Linked DNA regions of Homo sapiens. The protein of the gene in region 1 purifies or fractionates together with the protein of each later gene. This does not show direct contact. Each region holds a gene or a part of one and is shown in the gene's direction. Other genes may lie near its edges. The genes, in order: ZNF138 and DDI2.

Region 1 (3,824 bases):
TCAGGTTTTGGTGTCTGAATGATGCTGTTCTTACCTAATGAGTTGAAGGAGGGAGTGTCTTCTCAATTTTTTGGAATAGTTTTAGAAAGAATGGTACCAGCTCTTTTTTTTATACATCTTGTAGAATTTAGCTGTGGATGTCTCTGGTCCTGGGCTTTTTTTGGTTGCTAGGCTATTTATTACTAATTCAGTTCTGTAGTTTGTTATTGTTCTATTCAGAGATTCAATTTCTTTTTTGTTCAGTCCTGGGAGGATGTATTTTTCAGGAATGTACTATTTCTTTTAGATTTTCTAGTTTGTGTGCATGGAAGTGTTCATAGTAGACTTCAATAGTTATTTGTATTTTTCTGGGGTCAGTGGTAATGTCCCTTTTGTCATTTCTAATTGTATTTATTTGAATCTTCATTAATCTTGCTAGTGGGTTATTTAGCTTATTAATTTTTTTAATAGATTTAACTCCTGGATTTCTTGATCTGTTGCATAGTTTTTTATGTCTAAATCTCCTTCAGTACAGCTCTTGTTATTTTTTGCCTTCTGCTAGCTTAGGGGTTTGTTTCCCCTTGCTTCTCTCCTTATTTTATTCATAATGTTAGGTTGTTAAATTGAGATCTTTTTAACTTTTTTATGGGGGCATTTAGTGCTATAAATTTTTCTGTTAGCACTGCATTAGCTGTGTTGCAGAGATTCTGATATGCTGTACTTTGTTCTCATTTGTTTCAAAGAGCTTTTTGATTTTGCCTTAATATTATTATATACCCAAAAGTTATTCAGGTACAGGTTGTTTAATTTCCATGTACTTGTATGGTTTCAAGTGGTTTTCCTTGTATTGAATTATATTTTAATCAATCTGTGGTCTGAGTATGTGGTTGGTATAATTTTGGGATGTTTGAAATTGCTGAGGATTGTTTTATTTTGGATTGCGTGGTCAATTTTAGAGTATGTGCCACATGGTGCTGAGAAGAATATATATTATGTTGTTTTTAGATGGAGAGTTCTGTAGATTTCTAGTAGGGCTATTTGGTTAAGTATTGAGTTTAGTTCTTTTTTAATTTGCTGCCTCAATAATGTGTCTAATAGTGTCTGTGGGGTGTTGTAGTCTCCCACTATTGTATCAGAATCTAAGTCTCTTCATAAATCTCTAAGAACTTGCCTTATTCATGTGCACCTGTGAAAGGAAATTAAATCTTGGGACCCAAAACTCATTAAGCCAAACAGAAAAGTTAAGCTGGGAACGGGGTCACACAAACCTGCCTTCCTCTTTTGGCTCTGTTGACGAAGAGTCAAACTCTGTAAAATATTTTAAGAGATTTATTCTGAGCCAAATATGAGTGACCATGGCCTGTGACACAGCCCTCGGGAGGTCCTGTGATCAGGCCAAGGTGGTCGGGTTACAGCTTGGTTTTATATATTTTAGGGAGACATGAGACATCAATGAAATACATTTAAGAAATACATGGATTTGTCCGAAAGGCAGAACAACTCAAAGTGGCGGCTTCCGGGCTATAGGCAAATTTACACATTTTCCGGTTGACAGTTGGTTGAGTATATCTGAAGACCTCGGATCAATAGAAAGAAAATGTTCAGGTTAAGATAAAGGATTGTGGAGACCAAGTTTTATTGTGGAGAGGAATCTCAGATAGCAGACTTCAGAGACAGCAGGTTGTAAAAATGTTTCTTCTTACTGGACTTAAAAAGGTGCCTGGCTCTTAGTTGATTGATTATCTCCTGGATCTGGAATGTAAGGAAGGAAAACAAAAGAGGAAAGGGGATTGTCTATAGAATGTACATTTTTCCCACAAGAGACTTTTGCAGGGCAATTTCAAGGCATGGCAAGAAAATATATTTTGGTGTTAAATATTTTGATTTTTTTTTTCTTGTCTCATAATGTTACGCCAGAGTCAGATTGGAAAGTAAGTCACGATCTATAGGGTCAAATAAAACCCATCTGATGAGAATTTATGGTTTGTAGGGCATGACCCCTTACAAACAATTAGATAGAAATTTGGGCAAGATAAAAAATTCAGAGCTTAGTCCTCAGTTCCTAAATAAGATGGCTACAAGAAGAAAAGCTACATACCTCCCCCATCTTTTGCCCACAAGAAAATTTCTAGTGAGCCGCAAGATCTTTACCCTAAGGTGTTTCTGTTAAAATGTAAACTGATAGCTTATCTTTACAGATACAGTCACCCCCCTGCCCAACAGACACAAATGCATATCTGATTGTTCCCCTGCCTCGTTTTGTCTTGTCTTATGTTAAAAAAAAAAAATGCAGATTCACTGAGCCAGACAATGGCATGAGTGACTATTTTTCCCTACCCCCCTCTTACATAACAATTGTGTACTTCTCAATATCTCACTGTAGGAGAAAATATAAATTAGAAATAAGAGGGTTTATTCTCCTGCATGAAAATAAGGGAGGATATTTTGTTAATTTATTTTTCTTTAAAGCACTTAAATTATATGTAGATTTTTTTCTTTGTTGTTTGAAAGATATGTAAATCATATTAACAGCTAAATCTTTTGTCATTGTTTTTGACTCAGGATTGTCTTTATCTAGGACCTCAGATTCATTGCTTTGTTTTTGCTTTGGCAAAGGTTTTTTTTTTTTTTTTTTCATTTAATCTGTATCTTTTAAGGTAGACACAGATTTGTTTAGATTAAAGCTCATTTTAAGAGCACACAAAAGTTGAGCACAAAGATAGGATTACATTTAGCAATACAGAATGATGAAGACTAAAAGATACCAAGTAAGCTCCTTTGACAGAAAACAGATTATCCAAGGTAATTATTTAATATTTGCAGGCTGAAGTACTTACATTGCAAAAGCGAGGTTCAGTGTATGAACTGAACAGTGGAGTCTGTGGTTGTGCTTTGGTTTCTGCTTATTACTTCAGAACAATTAGCATAGTTATGTGTAGTGTTTGTAGACAAACTGCATTCATATAAATTAAGCAGTATTTTATACAGTAGTGTGAATATAACACCACAATATTTGCTTTGAATGAATCCCTTAGTAATTTCAATATTTTTATATTCATACATTTGGAATATAAAGTGTTTTAATTGGATTATGGTTACAGACAATTTTTAAAAATCCTATGTACATTATAAATAGTACATTAAAATTATACTAAGTGTATCTAATCAAAAAAGTTACTATCAAATTATTACAGTAGATATTAGTATAACATGGTTACTAATTTATCCAATAGAGATAATTATAGGTAAGCATAACTTCAGTGTCTTTCGTTTCACTAAATTGGAATGCTGCTGTTACAGGAAAAATAAACAAGGGTGATGTGGCCACCCAAAAACCGTAATAGCTCTTCACTTACCCATGATGCAAGCTCAAATATATTCCACTATATTAACAAAGTCATATTCCAATTCTTCATTAAAAAGTTCTGGTGGGGATAAGGGAGGAGACCACCCCTCATACTGTCTCATGCCCAATTTCTGCCTCCAAAGAAAGAAGTAAAAACTAAAAGGCAGAAATGAAATCCACAGGCAGACAGCCCGGCGCCACACCGTGGGCCTGGTAGTTAAAGATTGACCCCTGACCTAATTGGCTATGTTATCTATAGATCACAGACATTGTATAGAAAAGCACTGTGAAAATCCCTGTCCTGTTCTGTTCCGTTCTAATTACCGGTGCATGCAGCCCCCAGTCATGTACCCCCTGCTTGCTCAATTGATCACAGCCTTCTCATGTGGACCCCCTTGGAGTTGTGAGCCCTTAAAAGGGACAGGAATTGCTTACTCGGGGAGCTCAGTTGTTTGGAGTTGTGAGTCTTGCTGAAGCTCCCGGCTGAATAAAGCCCTTC
Region 2 (3,824 bases), on another chromosome or scaffold:
AGATTTTTGATGACTTTAAATGAGAAGATAATAGGAGGAGACAAAATAAGTACCAAGCTCTGTGGCCATCCTTGTGGATTTTACAACCGTGGCTATGATCAGCATGAAAAAACCCTTATAGCAATAGGGGAAACCTAAATAAAAGGAAAGCTTTACCATGGATTAGAGATTCAGTATGTTGGGGGTGGCAGTTCTCCCACATTAATCCACAGAACCATTGAGATGCCATCAAAATCCTGGTAGATTTTTTGTGAGACTGGATGTGCTCATTTTAAATTTGGCGTGGGCCCTATATTGTGAGAATGGGCAAAATACTCTAGAAAAACATTGCCTTCTAGATATCAAAGGACTATCTAGAAGATATGAGTAGAAACAAACCCATGATTCTATGAACATTGATCAATGAGAGGAAGTCTTACAGAGCAATGGGGAAATGTTAGGAAATGTTGCTGGGACAAGAGGTATCCATGGGGAGAAATGAATTAGAAATCGGACCCTACCCACACCACACAAAAGCAAATTCAGAGTAAACACCTAGATGCAGGGGAGGGAGGATTGCTTGAGCCTAGGAGTTTGAGACCAGCCTGGGCAACGTAGCAGACCCTGTCTCAAAAAAAAAAAAAAAAAACAACCCTAAAACCTAGATGTGGAAAGGAAAATTAAAGATTTTAGCAGAAAATACACAATATCTTGTGTAAGGAAGGAGTTCTTTAAAAATAGGTCATCTGCTGGGTGTGGTGGCTCACTCTTGTAATCCCAGCACTTTGGGACGCCAAGGCAGGGATGACTGCCTGAGGCCAGAAGTTCAAGACCAGCCTGGTCAATATAGCGAGACTCAATCTCTACAAAAAGTTTTTGGCTGGGTGCAGTGGCTCACGCCTGTAATCCCAGCACGTTGGGAGGCCAAGGTGGGTGGATCACGTGAGGTCAGGAGTTCAAGACCAGCCTGGCTAACATGGTGAAACCCTGTCTCTACTAAAAATGTAAAAATTAGCTGGGCGTGGTGGTGCGTGTTTGTAATCCCATCTACTTGGAAGGTTTAGGCAGAGAATCAGAGAACACAGGAGGCAGAGGTTGCAGTGAGCCGAGATCACGCCACTGCACTCCAGCCTGGGCAACAGAGCAAGACTCTGTCTCAAAAAATAATAATGAAAAGAACTTTTCAGCTGGACACGGTGGCTCATACCTGTAATCCCAGCACTTTGGGAGGCCAAGGTGGGCAGATAACCTGAGGCCAAGAGTTTGAGACCAGCCTGACCGACATGGCAAAACCCCGTCTCTACTAAAAATACCAAAATTAGCCAGGCGTGGTGGCACATGCCTGTAATCCCAGCTACTTGGGAGGCTGAGGCAAGAGAATCACTTAAACCCGGGAGGCAGAGGTTGCCATCAGCCAGGATTATGCCATTGCACTCCAGCCTGGGCAACAAGAGCGAAACTCCGTCTCTGTTTTGAAGTACGTAACAATAACCTTTTCTCTTCATGTGCTTTTTAGCTCAGGTTCAGATTGAAGGAGATTTTTTGCCATGTTCCTTCTCTATACTTGAGGAACAGCCCATGGACATGCTTCTGGGACTGGACATGCTTAAACGGCACCAGGTAATTAAGAGCTTCACTTATTTTTTTTGCATCTGCTTTTTGTAATATGGTCATTATCACATTATTTTTATTGGTTACATATACTGGAAAACTAAGAAATAACGACTTTTCAAACCTGGAAATGTCCTTAAATTATGTTGCTATACAGAGGTTGAAATGATGTGTCGATATAGATAGAATCTGTTTTTGTGAAATCTCTCTGTGAATCTGTTAAATCTTGCCAAATGTTTTGAGATTGTAAAGGACAGTTTGGTTCCCTTGTATAATTTTCAGATTCTGGTTAGATCCTGATTAGTAGTTTTTTGATGACCTGACTAAAAAGTGTGAGTCAAGTAAGTCTTTAGCATTCTCTGATGCTGATCAAACAGTACTTGGGAAGAAGACCTTCAAGGTTAAGGAAGGTATATGTTGGGAGTGAAAGTGTTTATTTAGTACAGGGTGCATAATTAATATATTAATTTGTGTTGATATTTATCTTTCTACTCTAAAGCACAATAATTTGAGATATACTGCCGTCGTTGAAGAAGCAGTTAGTCCACTGGGTATTTAGATGAGATTAGGCATGCTCAGGGTGGTATGGCTGTAGACCTCACTGGGTACTTCACATTTTTCACAGTAGGGTTTTATATCCAGTCAACCTGCCAGGTACAGTGGTACATGCCTGTAATTCCAGCATTTTGGGAGGCCAAGGAGGGAGGATTGCTTGAGGCCAGAATGAGTTTGAAACCAGTCTGGGTAACTTAGTGAGACCCTGTCTCTACAAAAAGTACAAAAATTAGCTAGGCGTGGTGGTACATTAGCTACTCGTGAGGCTGAGGCAAGAGGATCCCTTGAGACCAGGCTGCAGTGAGTCAAGATTGTGCCACTACACTTCAGCCTGGGTAACAGAGCAAAACCACATCTCAAAAAACAAAATTGAGTTAAAAACAATTGAAAATATAGCTAATCAATATTTTTATGTCACTATTTTAAAATATTTCTGTAAAAGTAGATGCATCATATTGATAATAAGACACAGCATTCTATTTATTTATTTATTTATTTATTTTGAGATAGCGTCTCGCTCAGTTGCCCAGGCTGGAGTGCAGTGGTGCAATCTTGGCTAACTGCAAGCTTCGCCTCCTGGGTTCACGCCATTCTCCTGCCTCAGCCTCCCGAGTAGCTGGGACTACAGGCACCCATCACCACGCCCGGCTAATTTTTGTATTTGTAGTAGAGACGGGGTTTCACCTTGTTAGCCAGGATGGTCTCGATCTCCTGACCTCGTGATCCGCCCGCCTCAGCCTCCCAAAGTGCCGGGATTACAGGCGTGAGCCACCACGCCCGGCTCACAGCATTCTAAATAGAACGAATGAATGAATGAGTGTATGTATCAATAAAACCTTGTCACTGCCTTTCCTTATTTTTTTAGTCATGGTATAGACCAGCAGTCTCCAACTTTATAGATGTAAATCATATATGTGCACAACTGTCTATTAAGTAGTTATAAAATACACAAAAAAGGAAGTTAGCATTAGCATGGAGTAAAGAATACTGTGGAGATTGCCTTGCGTGGCACAATCTTGGCTCACTGCAACCTCTGCCTCGCAGGTTCAAGTGATTCTCCTGCCTCAGCCTCCCAAGTAGCTGCGATTATGGGCATGTGCCACCACGCCTGGTTAATTTTTGTATTTTTAGTAGAGGTGGGGTTTCACCGTGTTGGCCAGGCTGGTCTGGAACTCCTGACCTCAGGTGATCTGCCCTCCTCAGCCTCCCAAAGTGCTGGGATTACAGGCATGAGTCACCGTGCCTGGCCATTTGTGATTGGAGTTTTAAATTAAGGAGCATAATTTTTCTGCATGGTGTTTTATCTGCTATTATTCTTTGGTTTCTTTCTTCCAAGTGTTCCATCGACCTGAAGAAAAATGTACTCGTGATCGGCACCACAGGCTCCCAGACCACCTTTCTTCCTGAGGGAGAGCTACCAGAGTGTGCCCGGTTGGCATATGGGGCTGGAAGAGAGGATGTACGGCCAGAGGAGATTGCAGACCAAGAATTAGCAGAAGCCCTTCAAAAATCAGCAGAGGATGCAGGTATTTGGGATGGCCAAACTCTTCAATACTTGTTATTGATGGGTAAGCCCGGGAAGTGTGGGCTTCAGAAGGGGTAGGAACCTTTCCAGTTTTTAATTAGTCTCATGGTCCAGTAGTAGATGTGTTCATTATTTGTCTTCTTAACCTCCTTCT

The links.
Region 2: the proteins of ZNF138 (region 1) and DDI2 purify together in Homo sapiens (co-immunoprecipitation; one large-scale study listed by IntAct). This does not show direct contact.

Annotation. Positions count from the first base shown.
Region 1 is NC_000007.14:64,800,663-64,804,486, forward strand, and holds part of ZNF138 (zinc finger protein 138), read left to right. Parts: intron 1-3,824. UniProt on the Homo sapiens protein: May be involved in transcriptional regulation as a repressor.
Region 2 is NC_000001.11:15,648,225-15,652,048, forward strand, and holds part of DDI2 (protein DDI1 homolog 2), read left to right. Parts: intron 1-1,495; coding exon 1,496-1,599; intron 1,600-3,481; coding exon 3,482-3,671; intron 3,672-3,824. UniProt on the Homo sapiens protein: Aspartic protease that mediates the cleavage of NFE2L1/NRF1 at 'Leu-104', thereby promoting release of NFE2L1/NRF1 from the endoplasmic reticulum membrane.